2 linked regions of the Homo sapiens genome follow. The protein of the gene in region 1 purifies or fractionates together with the protein of each later gene. This does not show direct contact. Each region holds a gene or a part of one and is shown in the gene's direction. Other genes may lie near its edges.

What was found. The genes of interacting proteins can lie anywhere in the genome.
Region 2: the proteins of ZNF433 (region 1) and ANKHD1 purify together in Homo sapiens (affinity purification with mass spectrometry, with the first as the bait; 2 studies listed by BioGRID). This does not show direct contact.

Annotation. Positions count from the first base shown.
Region 1 is NC_000019.10:12,025,249-12,032,732, reverse strand, and holds part of ZNF433 (zinc finger protein 433), read left to right. Parts: intron 1-2,534; exon of another isoform or gene 2,535-2,593; intron 2,594-5,538; exon of another isoform or gene 5,539-6,539; intron 6,540-7,484. UniProt on the Homo sapiens protein: May be involved in transcriptional regulation.
Region 2 is NC_000005.10:140,404,602-140,412,085, forward strand, and holds part of ANKHD1 (ankyrin repeat and KH domain-containing protein 1), read left to right. Parts: intron 1-7,484. UniProt on the Homo sapiens protein: May play a role as a scaffolding protein that may be associated with the abnormal phenotype of leukemia cells. Isoform 2 may possess an antiapoptotic effect and protect cells during normal cell survival through its regulation of caspases.

The DNA of each region.
Region 1 (7,484 bases):
GCAGGTGGATCACCTGAGGTCAGGAGTTCAAGACCAACCTGGCCAACATGATGAAACCCTGTTTCAACTAAGAATACAAAAGTTAGCTGAGTATAGTGGTGCATGCCTATAATCCCAACTACTAGGGAGACTGAGGCACGAGAATCCCTTGAACCTGGGAGGTGGAGGCTGCAGTGAGCTGACATTGCACCACTGTATTCCAGCCTGCACTACAGGGCGAGTCTCCATCTCAAAAAAAAAAAAAAAATCGCTATTTAGTCTTATATTCCATTTCTTAATATGTTTTTTTCTTCTCTGCGGGCAGTGTAGTACATTTCTCAGGTGTATCCTTTTGTTGTGGGTGATTTCCAATGATGTTATAGGGACTAGTTTTAGGAATGCTACTGGAGAAAAATAGGGAAAGTTTACTATTTTAACTGGAGAAAAATGAAATAATTTCCACAAGAAAGTATGGTAGATTGGTGAATTACAAAGAGTACCCAAAATATCAGTTCTGGCCAGGCGTGGTGGCTCACGCCTGTAATCCCAACACTTTGGGAGGTCGAGGCGCACAGATCACCAAGTCAGGAGATCGAGACCATCCTGGCCAACATGGTGAAACCCTGTCTCTACTAAAAATACAAAAAAAAAGCCGGGCATGGTGGCACAAGCCTGTAGTCCCAGCTACTCGGGAGGCTGAGGCAGGAGAACTGGTTGAACCTGGGAGGCAGAGGTTGCGGTGAGCCGAGATTGCGCCACTGCACTCCAGACTGGGCAACGGTGAAACTCCATCTCAAAAAAAAAAAAAGAAAAAGAGAAAGAAAAAAAAAAAACAGTTCTTTGCAGGATGGAGGACTTTTTTTTTTTTTTTTTAAAGGGTCTTGCTGTCACCCAGGCTGGAGTGTACTGGTGTGATCACAGCTCACTACAGCCTTGACCTCCTGGGCTCAAGCAATCATCGTGAGCCTCCCGAGTAGCTGGGCTCACAGGTGCATGCCACTCTGCCCAGCTAGTTATTTTTTGTAGGGATGAGGTCTTCCTGTATTGCCAAGATTTCGTGTCTTATTTCCACAAAGAGTCTGTTTTGTCTTTTGATATTACTTTATTTTTTAGACAGAGTCTCACTGTGTTGCCTAGGCTGGAGTGCAGTGGCACGATCTTGGCTCACTGCAACCTCCACCTCCTGGGTCCAAGCGATTCTTGTGCCTTAGCCTCCTGAGTAGCTGGTGACTGCCACCACGCCCAGCTAATTTTTGTATTTTTTTTAGTTGAGAAGGGGTTTCGCCATGCTGGCTAGGCTGATCTTGAATTCCTGACATCAAGTGATCCGCCCCTTCTTGGCATCCCAAAGTGCTGGGATTACAGGTGTGAGCCACTGTGCCTGGCTTGATATCTATTTTAACATGAATGTTGGTCAGCTGCTTTGTTTTTTTTTTTGTTTTGTTTTTTTTTTTTTTTTGAGATGGAGTCTCACTCTATCAACAAGCTGGAGTGCAGTGGCGCAATCTCTGCTCACTGCAACCTCCGCCTCCTGGGTTCAAGCAAATCTCCTGCCTCAGCCTCCCAAGTAGCTGGGACTACAGGCACGCACTACCACATCCAGCTAATTTTTGTATTTTTAGTAGAGACGGGGTTTCACCGTGTTGGCCAGAATGGTCTCAATCTCTTGACCTCGTGATCTGCCCACCTCAGCCTCCCAAAGTGCTGGGAGTACAGGCGTGAGCCAGCCACACCACTGCAACCCCCACCTCCCAGGTTCAAGTGATCTTCCTGCTTCAGCTTCCCAAATAGCTAGAACTACAGGTGTTTTCCACCACACCCAGCTAATTTTTGTATTTTTCATAGAGACGGGGTTTCACCATGTTGCTCAGGCTTGTCTCGAATTCCTGAGCTCAAGTAATCCTGCCTCCACCTCCAAAAGTGCTGGGATTACAGGCATAAGCCAGTATGCCCAGCTCTTTTAGTTATTTCAAAATGTACAATATATTATTTTTTACTATAGTCAACCTGTTGTGCTTGCAAATGCTTAGTCTTATTCATTTTTTCTGTGTTTTTGTACCCATGGACCCTCTCCATTGGTCTATATTTCCATCTCTCTGTTAATATCATTTTCTCTTTATTAGTATAGATCTCAAAGCTGTGATGTATTCTAGGGCTAGTGCCTATCTATCTTAGTCATCTTGGGCTTTTATATCAAATTCCCATAAACCGGGTGACTTAAAGAATAATTTCTAGGCCGGGCATGGTGGCTCACGCCTGTAATCCCAGCACTTTGGGAGGCTGAGGCAGGTGGATCACGAGGTCAAGAGATCGAGACTATCCTGGCCAACATGGTGAAAGCCTGTCTCTACTAAAAATAGAAAAAATTAGCTGGGCTTGGTGATGCGCACCTGTAGTCCCAGCTACTCAGGAGGCTGAGGTAGGAGGATCACTTCAACCTGGGAGGCAGAGGTTGCAGTAAGCTGAGATCATGCCACTGCACTCCATCCTGGTGACGGTGAGACTCCGTCTCAAAAAAATAAAAAAATAAAAAAATAAACATTTCTTTCTGACAGTTCTGGAAGCCTGGAAGTTATGAAGTCCATGTTCAAGGTGCTGACAGATCTGGTGCCTGGTAAGAGCCTGCTTCCTGGTTTGCAGATGGCTATTTTTTTTTTTTTTTTTTTTTTTTTGAGATGGAGTCTTGCTCTGTCACCCAGGCTGGAGTGCAGTGGTGCGATCTCGGCTTACTGCAACCTCTGCCTCTGGGATTCAAGCAATTCTCCTGCCTCAGCCTTCCGAGTAGCTGGGATTACAGGTGCCTGCTACCGTGCCCAGCTAATTTTTTGTATTCTTTAGTAGAGGCAGGGTTTCACCATCTTGGCCAGGCTGGTCTCAAACTCCTGACCTCGTGATCCACCCACCTCAGGCTCCCAAAGTGCTGGGATTACATGTGTGAGCCACCGCGCCCGGCCAGCTATTTTTTTATTTTTTCACATGACAGAGAGAAAGAGGAAACAAGCTATCCTGTGTCTCATAAGAGTACTAATCCCATTCACGAGGGATCTACTCTCATGCTCTAATCTAATTCTAATGACTTCTCAGAGATGCCATCTTAATTCCATCGTATTACAGGTTAGGGTGTCACTGTATGATTTGGAGTGGGAAAATGCAAACATTTATGTCATTAACATCCCTTAGTCATATTTTATACAACATCCTGGCTTTTTTTTTTTTTTTTTTTTTTTTTTTTGAGACAGAGTCTTGCTCTGTCACCGAGGCTGGAGTGCAGTGGTGCAATCTCAGCTCACTGCAACTTCCGCCTCCCGGGTTCAAGTAATTCTCCCTGCCTCAGCCTCCCGAGTAGCTGGGACTACAGGCACATGCCACCATGCCAGGCTAATTTTTGTATTTTTAGTAGAGAGGGGTTTCACCATGTTGGCTAGGCTGGTCTTGAACTCCTGACCTCAGGTGATGCGCCCACCTCCACCTCCCAAAGTGCTGGGATTACAGGTGTGAGCTACCACACCCAGCTTATGCTGGCTATTCTTAGTCATTGTCTTCTATTTCAGTGTTTAGAAGTAGTTTTTCTTAATTTTAATGAAAAAACAAACCTGCCTATGCATTTCATGGAATATAATAAAATACTAGATGTATTTCAGAGAGATTACATCACAGTGATAATCAGTGTGTGTTTAAGGACATATGACATCTTTACATTTATTACATTTTCCATTGATATCTTTCCATGGGTACTTTTTGGATAATAATAATTTTATATCCTTTCTGAGACTTTTTGGGACTTCAAGAAAATTAATTGCTTTTGGAGGCCAAGGTGGGAGAATGGCTTGAGCCCGGGAGTTTGAGACCAACCTGGACAACATAAAGAGACCCCGTCTTCACAAAAATTAAGAAATTCACCATGTGTGGTGGCAGGAGCCTGTATTATCATCTACTCAGGAAGGTAGGGATAGCTTGAGCCTGGGAAGTCAAGGCTACAGTGAGCTGTCATCATGCCCCTGCACCATAGCATGGGTGACAGTGCAAGAACCTGTCCCTAAACAAAACAAAAATAATAAAAACATTTTTAAAAAGAAAATTAACTGTAATACAAATTTGTTTAACAGGCTATGTTGTCTTTTTAAAAATTATATTCAGTAGGTTGTTGCTGGTATTTCCATGTGCACTGATAGTTATTTCTGCACAGAGTTTCCACTCTAGAAACTAAAAATATTACATATGGTCAAAACACATAAAACAATTTCACAGTGAACCAAAATATTGATGGAGCCAGTATTGCGAATGATAATTATTGTTTTCTTATTTTCTTCATAGTTTCATAACCTGGGTATGCATCCCTATCAGTATATTTTATTTTTACATTTTTTTATGCAGTTGATATCAGATATGTGATATTTTATATCATATTTTATTTTTACTTAGTAACGAACCTTCCATGGAATGGTAGTTCACTTTCTTGATTAATGGATTTTGTTTTTTATAGCAGTAGTCATTTGACCATAACATTGAGCAGATAATCTACATGGGTCCCACTTGTTTTTTCTTAGGTCACAGTTCTTCCTATGGTACTTCAGTCCTATGTACTGGGGAGGCTGTGGTGGGAGGATCACTTGAGCCCAGGTGATTGAAGCCACAGTGAAATATGATCATACCACTGCACTCCAGACTAAGTGACAGAGTGAGACCCTGTCTCAAAAAAACAAAATTGAAAAAAACAAAAAAAGATAAAAGAGTATATGGTCATGCCACTCTGAATGCACCTGATCTTAGCAGCTAAGCAGGTTCAGGCCAGGTTAGTACATGGTTTGTAGAATTCCTGGGAATACTGGTTGCTATAGCCTTAAAAAACAGAAATTGCAAGAGAATTCACCAAATGGAAGAAAGACATGCAAATTCTATACCTGGTCCTGACATATATCTATATCAGCTGAAGCCTAAGTGCCAAGACCAGCTTGGTCATGGAGACCCTAACCCAGTGGTGCTAGAGGAATTAAAGACACACTCAGAGAAATAATAGAATGTGGAGTGGCAAATCGGGGCTGACGGCCTTCAGAGCTGAAAGCCATGAAAAGAGATTTACCCACATTTATTGACAGCAAGCCAGTGATATGCATTGTTTCTGTAGATTATAGATTAACTAAAAATATTCCTTATGTGAAACAAAGGGATGGGCTCTGGCTAGTTATCTGCAGCAGGAACATGTCCTTAAGGCCCAGATTGCTCATACTATTGTTTGTGGGTTAGGAACACCTTTAAGCAGTTTTCCGCCCTGGGTGGGCCAGGTGTTCCTTGCCCTCATTCCAGTAAATGAACAACCTTCAGTGTGGGCATCATAGCCATCATGAACATGTCACAGTGCTGCAGAGATTTTGTTTATGGCCAGATTTGGGAGCCTGTCCCCAACATGTTCCCCCTTTTTGTTTTTGCAAGACAATAAAAGCAAAGGTGGCTTTATCATGGTGAGCTACATCTCGCAGGAGTTGGGATCCACATCTGCAGACTATACAAAGACAACACAGATTAAAAGCACAATCATCATTGAAATCACAGAGCCTCCAAGTGTTTTTATCTATTTTAATGGGTTAATAGCTGCTAATCCATCTGCAGCTCCTTCAAGCACTCCAGTTCCTGGCATTAAGGTCAGGTGTGCCTGGGATGCTTTAAATATTTGTTCTTTTAATTTTGCAATATCCAAGTTTCTAGAGTGTCCTTCTAGATGCTTTTTTATCCTTTCCCAAATTTTGATCTTATTAAGAGCCATTAATAGTTTCCACAAATCCTTATGTTTAGCTCCTACAGCAGGCCATATCATTTGAGGTTGAGGTGCCACTATACCACCATGTTTCCAGATAATAGGAACTCTTGCCATACTTCTTATCATTTCTACCATCTGACCATTTTGTTCAGACCAGCTGAACATAGTGTGGCCATGGCAGGCAGACTGAGAGGTGCAATTCAAGCTAAACATCCCCTTAGGGGAACAATCAATAATGACTCCATAGGAATCGTTGTGCAGCACCTCTGCCTGTTCTGCAATGCAATCTTCCCAAACAAGTACGTTCATTTTTTCTGACCAGGTCCAATCCTGTTTACAAATAGTTTTTTGAGGGCAGTATGCCTCAATTATAGGAGCAGATTATTATGGTAAATACTGAGACCAGAAAGCATGTGTAACTGTGTCATAGAGTGATCACATCCAGGCATTATTGCCAGCCAAGATTGATAAATATGCCCAATAAGTGTAATTGTTCTCTGTGTCAGCCCTTGTTGAAGGAATACTCATGGCAATGGTGATCACCACTGTCATAGCTATCATTAAATTACTCATTGTGACTGGTTGTCCCGCTTTTCTCAGGTTTTTCTCTGCCATCTGTGACAGCTTCTTGATCTGTCCCCAGGCAGTTGTTGCTCGTGACAGTTGGGGTCCTCCTCAGCATCAGTCTTGACATGGCTGCAACCAGGGAGTCTTTGGGATCCTCCCAAAACCTCTTCCTGGGTATCTGGCTCATAGTAAGGCTTTAGATGTCTCAATGGCACCCAGATTGGCTGTTGATTTCATCCTGGGGAAACACAAGCATAACCTCTACCCCAAGTTATTATTTTACCTATTTCCCAACTTTTTGTTATCAGATCTCTCCACCAAACCAGTTGTTCTGCTTCTGTCTTTGCAGCTGGTTTCTGTAGATATTGTTCAGCTGCTGATAGCATCTGGCCTTTAGGCAGGCTCAAAAAATTTAAAGTCAATAATTCTAGATTCAGTTGCATATGGGGTGTCCTGTAGTCCCTGTTTCCCCCTTTTTGCTTTTGCAACTGCTGTTTCAGGGACAGATTCATTCTTTCCACTGTGGCTCATCCTTGAGAATTGTATGGAATGCCAATAATGTGTTTAATATTCCATATGGAGAAAAATGTAGCTAGAGCTTGGCTAGTATAGCCTGGGGCATTATCTGTTTTAATAGAAGCTGGAATGCCCATCACTGCAAAACACTGCAAAAGGTGACGTTTAACACAGGCAGAAGACTCTCCTGTTTGGCATGTAACCCAGTCAGACTGAGAAAAGGTGTCCACACATACATGTACATAAGCTAGTCTCCCAAACGAGGGAACATGTGTGACATCCATTTGCCAAAGAGAATTAGGTTCCAATCCTTGAGGATTAACTCCTCCTATAAAAGATGAGGAATGCACCATTTGGCAAGTTGGGCATCACTGAATAATAGCTTTAGCTTCTTTCCAGGTAATGCTGTATCTGCATTTGAGACCAGAGGCATTAACATGGGTTAAATTGTGAAAGTGTCTGGCATTAGATATTGTAGTAGCAACTAGGCCATCAGCCATTTGATTCCCTTCAGTTAAAGGTCCTGGAAGAGGTGTATGAGCCCTAGTGTGAGTGATGTAAAAAGGGTGTATTCTATTTCTAACTGCTGTTTGCAATTGGGTAAATAAAGTCATCAGTTGTTCATCTGTATGAAATGGCAACTGAGCATTTTCAGCTAATGGTGTGG
Region 2 (7,484 bases), on another chromosome or scaffold:
TTTTTGTATTTTTAGTAGAGACGAGGTTTTACCATGTTGGCCAGGTGGGTCTCAAACTCCTGACCTCAGGTGATCGCCCTCTCAGAGTGCTGGGATTACAGGCATGAGCCACCACGCCCGGCCTTAATTTTTTTTTTTTTTTTGAGACAGGTTTTGCTATGTTGTCCAGGCTAGCCTCAAACTCCTGGGCTCGGGTGGTCCTCCTACCTCAGCCTCCTAAGTAGCTGGGACTATAGGCACACGCTACTGTGCCTGGCAACCATTTGCTTTTTTATAAGTAATAGTCTTAAATTTCTTCACAGGTAGAGCACTAGTTTGCCCCCAAAGTCATAAATTTGTCTCTCTCTCTTTCTGACTGTGCATGTCTGTGTGTGTGTGTGTGTGTGTGTGTGTGTGTGTGTGTGTGTGTGTGTATGTGTAATGGTCTTTGGAGTCTCCATACCATGTAATTAAAGCTATGGGCAGAATCCATGCCTTTTGTATTTTTGAAGCTTATTGTAGAAGTCATGTGTTGGTGATTCCTACACCCACTTAGTGGTGCCTAATGTTAGAAGAGCCCCATATTCTCCTGTTTACTTATGTTTTCTGTGCCTAAAAGGATTTACAGGTTAAGAGTACATGTAGACCTCATTTTTGGAATGGAAGTTTCTAGGATACCCACTTTAGCCTAATCTAAGATGATGCTTAGTGGGTGTATAGATGCTTTCTTAATCTGTGTAAGCAGGAAATTTTTTTTGGGTCCTGTTTCTCCCATATCACATAGAGAGGAAATTCTTGGAGTATCTAGTCTTTATAGTATGTGTGGTAGAGTATAGTCTGTGCCTTTGTGAATAAAATGACCTGTTTTGGCCAAGCAAAAATTTTCCCTTTTCTTTTTCTGTCTGACAAGATGAGCTGTCTTCTTTTATTATTATTGCCTTTGAATTTTCAGTGTGAAAAGGTAACAGTGTTCTTCAAAAAATACTCATGTAATTGGCATTTGATGAATAATACTAAAATCCTCCGTCTCATCTTTCCTAAATATTTTGTTTATTTTTATTTATTTTTTTGAGACAGGGTCTCATTCTGTCACCCAGGCTGGAGTGCAGTGGCACGATCTTGGCTCACTGCAACCTCCGCCTCCTGGGTTCAAGCGATTCTTCTGTCTCACCCTCCTGAGTAGCTGGGATTACAGATATCCACCACCACTCCCAGGTAATTTTTATATTTTTGGTAGAGACAGCGTTTTGTCACGTTGGCCAGGCTGGTCTCAAACTTCTGGCCTCAAGTGATTCTCCCACCTTGGTCTCCCAAAGTGTTGGGATTACAGGTGTGAGCCACCATGCCTGGCCTTCATTTTTCCTAAATATTTATAACCACCGGGCATGGTGGCTCACGCCTGTAATCACAGCACTTTGGGAGGCCAAGGCGGGTGGATCAGCTGAGGTCAGGAGTTAGAGACCAGCCTGGCCAACATGGCAAAATTCTGTCTCTATTAAAACAAAAAATTAGCCGGGCTTGGTGGAGGGCGCCTGTAATCTGAGTTACTCAGGAGGCTGAGGGAGGAGAATCGCTTGAACCCAGGAGGCAGAGGTTGCAGTGAGCCGAGATCACGCCACTGCCCTCCAGGCAGGGTGACAGAGAGAGACTCTGTCTCAAAAAAAAAAAAAAATAAATTATTTTAGAAACAAGTACCTAGACATCCAAAAAGATGATGAATTGGTGTGTAGTTTGGGAGTGAAGTTTGTCTTGTTGCTCTAATGGGGCAGGATTAGGTGAGAAATAAGAAATGTGGAGCCCTAGTATTTTTGCTCTAGAATTAGTTGGTCTTCTACATTTTGTGTACAGAGGAGTAGACCCTCTAAGGACCTCTTTATATTTAATATCAGAGCCAAGAGCTGAGAAAAAACAAGCTACTCTTTCTTGCTGGCCAAGCAAAAGACCTTTTGGTTAGAGGAATGGACTCACATCTTTCAGTACATTTTTTTTTTTTTTTTGAGATGGAGTCTTGTCGCCCAGGCTGGCACGATCTTAGCTCACTGCAACCTCTGCTTCCTGCATTCAAGTGATTCTCCTGCCTCAGTAGTGAGATTACAAGTGCGTGCCACCATGCCTGGCTAATTTTTCTATCTTTAGCAGAAATGGGGGTTTCACCATATTGGCCAGGCTGGTCTCGAACTCCTGACCTCAGGTGATCTGCTCGCCTAGGTCTCCCAAAGTGCTGGGATTACAGCCGTGAGTCACCCACCTGGCCCTTTTGTTATTTTAAACATTGGGGTAAATACCTGCTTCGTATTTCTTCAGGCATTCTTAGCATGTTTCTTAGCTATCGAAGCCCTTGATTAGAAGAGCTAGCACTGCATTGAATCCTATTAAGAAATGTATCCATGTTCAGAATAGAAGTTAGGTTAAAAATTTCTTAAAAACCACTTTAGGCCTGGTGCGGTGGCTAACGCCTGTAATCCCAGCACTTTGGGAGGCCGAGGTGGGTGGGTCACAAGATCAGGAGTTTGAGACCAGCCAGACCAACATGGTGAAACCCCATCTCTACTAAAAAACAAAAATTAGGTGGGCGTGGTGGCACGCACCTGCAATCTCAGCCTACTCAGGAGGCTGAGGCAGGAGAATTGCTTGAACCTGGGAGGCAGAAGTCGCAGTGAGCTGAGATCGCGTCACTGCACTCCAGCCTGGGTGACAGAGTGAGACTCCATCTCCAAAAAAAAAAAAAAAACCACTTTAAAAAATGGTTTTTATTTTAAATTTTTATTTATTTATTTTGAGATTAGGATTACAGGTGTGAGCCACCACACCCAGCCTATTTTTATTTATTTATTTATTTTTAGAGATGGGCTTTTGCTCTGTCACCCAGGCTGGAATGCAGTGGCATGATCATAGTTCACTGCAACCTCGAATTCCTGGGCTCAAGCAATCCTACTGCCTCAGCCTCCCAAAGAGCTAGGTCTAACTAGAGGTGTACTCCACCACTCCACCTGATTTAAAAAAAAAAAAATGTTGCCCAGGCTAGTCTTGAACTCCTGGCCTCAAGGGATCCTTCTGCCTGGGCCTCCAAAAATGCAGAGATTACAAGTTGTAAGCCACTGTGCCTGACCGAAAAACCAATTTTTAAATTTTAATTTTAGAATTGTGGTCTTTTAATTTTTTTAGCAAATCGAAATAAAAATACAGTTTCTAAAGAAAAGATTGTGTGAGACATGGTTTTCAATTTTTGTCGTAAGAATGAATGTGTGTGTATATGTGTGTTTGTGTGTGTATGTGTGTGTGTGACGGCCCTCTTTTAAAATTATTACAAAAGTGGCCGGGCGCGGTGGCTCACGCCTGTAATCCCACCACTTTGGGAGGCCAAAGCGGATGGATCATCTGAGGTCAGGAGTTTGAGACCAGCCTGGCCAACATGGTGAAAGCCTGTCTCTACTAAAAATACAAAAATTAGCTGGGTATGGTGGCAGGCGCCTGTAATCCTAGCCACTTGGGAGGCTGAGGCAGGAGAATCTCTTGAACCCGGGAGACGGAGGCTGCAGTCAGCCAAGATCATACCAGTGCACTCCAGTCTGGGTAACAGAGCAAGACTCCATCTCAAAAAATTAGAAAATAATAAAATTATTACAAAATAGTTACTTGTTGAAAAACTCAACAATATAGATAGTAGGTATAAGGGGAAAAGTAAAAGTGCTTCTTCCCACCCCCATTAATTCTTCAAATTCTACCCTTCAAGGTAACCAATATTAAAATTTTTCATTCAGTAAATTTTCTAGGCCTATCTTTCTATGTATATATGTATATATGTTCATATACACATACTTTAAAGGCATATCAAATTTAAAAGTGTAGCTTTATATCACACTGAGGTTTTTTTCTTGAAGCAGGTGCTGTATTTACAATTATATAAAAGCACGCAGAAATTGTATTTAGCTCTGAAAATATAGCACAAGCTTTGTAGGGATTCCTTTTTCCCTGAAAATTACTTTTAACATCAAAAGCAAAAGTCATACAGAAATCCCATCCTGATTTTCTCCAGTAGGTAAGGAGTTGGGTCATATCCTTTAAGATTGTTTATGATCTATATATAATCTGTTTTTTAATTTTTAATTAAATTTTTTTTACCGTTATGTGTTTTGAGAGATGGGGGTCTCGCTTTTTTGCCCAGGCTGGCTGTTGCCCTGGCTACACAGTGCGGTGGCATGGTCATAACTCTATGTGGTCTCCCACTCCTGGGCTCAAGCAATCCTTCTGCTTCAGCCTCCCAAGTAGTCAGGACTACAGGGGACTATAGGTGTGCACCACAATACTTGGCTAGTATGATCTATAATCTAGAGCAGTTTCTCAAGAGCAACATATAGACATTTTGGGACAGAGAATTCTTTGTTGTGAGGGGCTCTCCTGTGCATTAGAAGCATCCCTGGCCTCTACCCACTAGATGCCAGTAGAACCCGATTATGATAGCCAAAAATTGTTCAGACGTTGCCAAATGTCTCCTAGGGACAAAATCACTCCTGGTTGAGAGCTACCGGTCTAGAGGCCACTCTTGTCAGGAATGGTAGTTTTGTTATACTCTGTATTCAAACTTAAGGTAAACAAGGTGAGTCACTGCTTTTAATAGCATTTCAGGACTTATGCTTATAACCTGAACAAGGGAGAAATAGAAGGTACTGAAAGGTTTAATATAAAACTAGCATGCACTGCTGTAAATTTTCTATGGTAAATGTATCATTTTGGGGAACTTTCACTTAAAATATATTATTTTTCAAAAAGTTCAGTTGTCCATGAAAATGAATTTTTAAAAAACTTTTATGGGGACTTCCAGTTTGTTCAAAGTAGAAATGCTTTATTCCATAAATTATCATTTGTAGTGATAACATAGGAAATATAACTTTGTATTCTAGTGGGCTAATTTTGGAGACTTTGGAAATGCTTATTGAATAAAAAGAATTATATGTTATTACTGTAACAATTTTTTTTTTTTTTTTTTGAGTCAGAGGAGCCTTGCTCTGTCACCCAGGCTGGAGTGCAGTGGCAGGATCTCGGCTCACTGCAGCCTCCACCTCCTGGGTTCAAGTGATTCTCCTGCCTCAGCCTCCTGAGTAGCTGGGACTACAGGCCCGTGCCACCACGCTCGGCTAATTTTTTGTATTTTTAGTAGAGACGGTGTTTCACTGTGTTACCCAGGATGGTCTCGGTCTCCTGACCTTGTGATCCACCCGCCTCAGCCTCCCAAAGTGCTGGGATTACAGGTGTGAGCCACCGCGCCCAGCCACAATTTTTTGTATGTTGCACAAATATCAACCTTTCACAAGCTTCATGATGTAAAGCCTTAAGACTTTACATATAAAATGATGCATTGATAAGTATATTTATGTGAATGGTGGGGTTGATGCAGAGTTGATTAGTATGGGTGGAGGAAAACTTTTTGGGAAACTTTAAGTATGAGAGGTTTTTGTTGTTATTAGTATATTTTCAATAGATAATTACATTCATATAGTTCATAAGTCAAAGTAATATAAGGGCAGATACAGTGAAGTCTCAATCTCACCCTGCTCCCACATATCTTGCTCTTTATACTTTTAATAAAAGTATTATATAGCCTTTCAGAATTTCTTTATGAAAATACAACTATGTGTATTTTCCCTACTGTTACACAGATGGTAAGATGCTATTTATGTGAAATTTTTAAATGGTAAATTTGAGAAGGATTTAGACTTTTTTAAAAAATTAAAGTGATAAATTATGTTATGAATGAAGGATGGAGGTGAGTTTAAGCACATTCCTTTCTGAGTCTATTTGTTAGTAGAGTGCTGATTGACTAGATGAATTCAAAATCAGTTCTGGCCTTCTGATTCAGTGATCACTAATATAAATAAAATATGTTACTTTAAAGAAAAGCAAAACAGTTTTAAACAGTTTTAGCCTTGAATTGGCAAGTAAACAAAATAAATGACAAGTTTACCAAATTTTTTTTTTTGGCCAAATTTACTTTCTCAGAACTAAAGTTGTAATAAATAAAATCAATTCTTTTTTTAAACCCACTATAAAGGAACTGTTTCAATGTATCTGTCTTCACAGACCTTATTGATCACATTTCCCTCTCCTATTGCTTGTCTATAGAGTCATAGAATCTTGGTGATAATCCTATCTCATCTCATTTTTAGGTAACTGCTACCATTTATTGAATGCTTATTATATACCAGTACCGTACTAGATACTTTCGTTATTTTATTTAATCGTTTCATCACCCCTTTGAGGTAGGTATTATCTACATTTTTATAGATGAATAAGTGTAGGCTCAGAGAGTTTTTAGAGTAATGAATCTAAAAAACAAAAAAATGGTTAAAATGTTATATGGCTAGTGACTGGTAAAGGTGGGATTTGAATGTGATACTGAATTTAGAGCCCATACTGTTATTTTGCTTCAAATTAAGAAATATGTAGTTTTTGGTTACCAAATGCTGTTTTTTAAATAAATCATTGTTTAGTTCCTATTGAAGTTTTCACAGATGTAAAGTAAAATGGAGAAAATAAGCAGGATGTAGTGAATTTCTAATGAAGCTATTTTTTCCCACTTTTTTCTATTTTGACAAATACTCTTCCTACTTTTACAAAATGAATTTTTAAAACTATCTGTACTTAACAGAATATCAACTGGAAACTTCATTTGGGACCCTGGATAAAAGCCTCAGAAGTCTGGGAACTGTTGAGCTAAATGACTTGCCCAGATCACACAGTTAATATGTAGCAGTCAAGACTGAAAAATAGGCCATCTGATTCCCATTCTAGTTATCCTACCTTCCAGATTCTCCTAACTTTCTTTTGATGCATTATATTAATGAGTTTAATTAGTTGCTTATAAATGCCTCTTTCAAACTATTATAGTTTATAATCCATAGTTGATCTTGTTGGAAAAGTTTTTTTTTTTTTTTGGCTGTTTTTTTTTTGGTTTGTTTGAGAACGGAGTCTCACTCTGTTGCCCAGGCTGGAGTGTAATGGTGCAATCTTGGCTCACTGCAACCTCTGCCTCCCGAGTTCAAGCAATTCTCCTGCCTCAGCCTCCTGAGTAGCTGGGATTATAGGCGGCCACCACCATACCCAGCTAATTTTTTTTTGTATTTTTAGTAGAGATGGGGTTTCACCATGTTGGCCAGGCTGGTCTCGAACTCCTGACCTCAGACTATCTGCCCACCTCAGCCTCCCAAAGTGCTGGGATTATAGGCTTGAGCCACTGTGCCTGGCCTTTTTTTAAATTTTTTTTTTTTTGAGACAGGGTCCCGTTATGTCACCCAAGCTGGAGTGCGGTGGTGCAGGAGTGCAGTGGCTCACGATCGTATGGCGCAATCACGGCTCAGGCAGCCTTGACCTTCTGGGCTCAAGCGATCCTCCCCTTTCAGCCTCCCAAGTGTCTGGGACCACAGGCGCACACCACCGTACCCTGCTAATTTTTAAATTAAATTTAATTAATTAATTTTTTCCGACACACAGTCTTAGTTGCCCAGGCT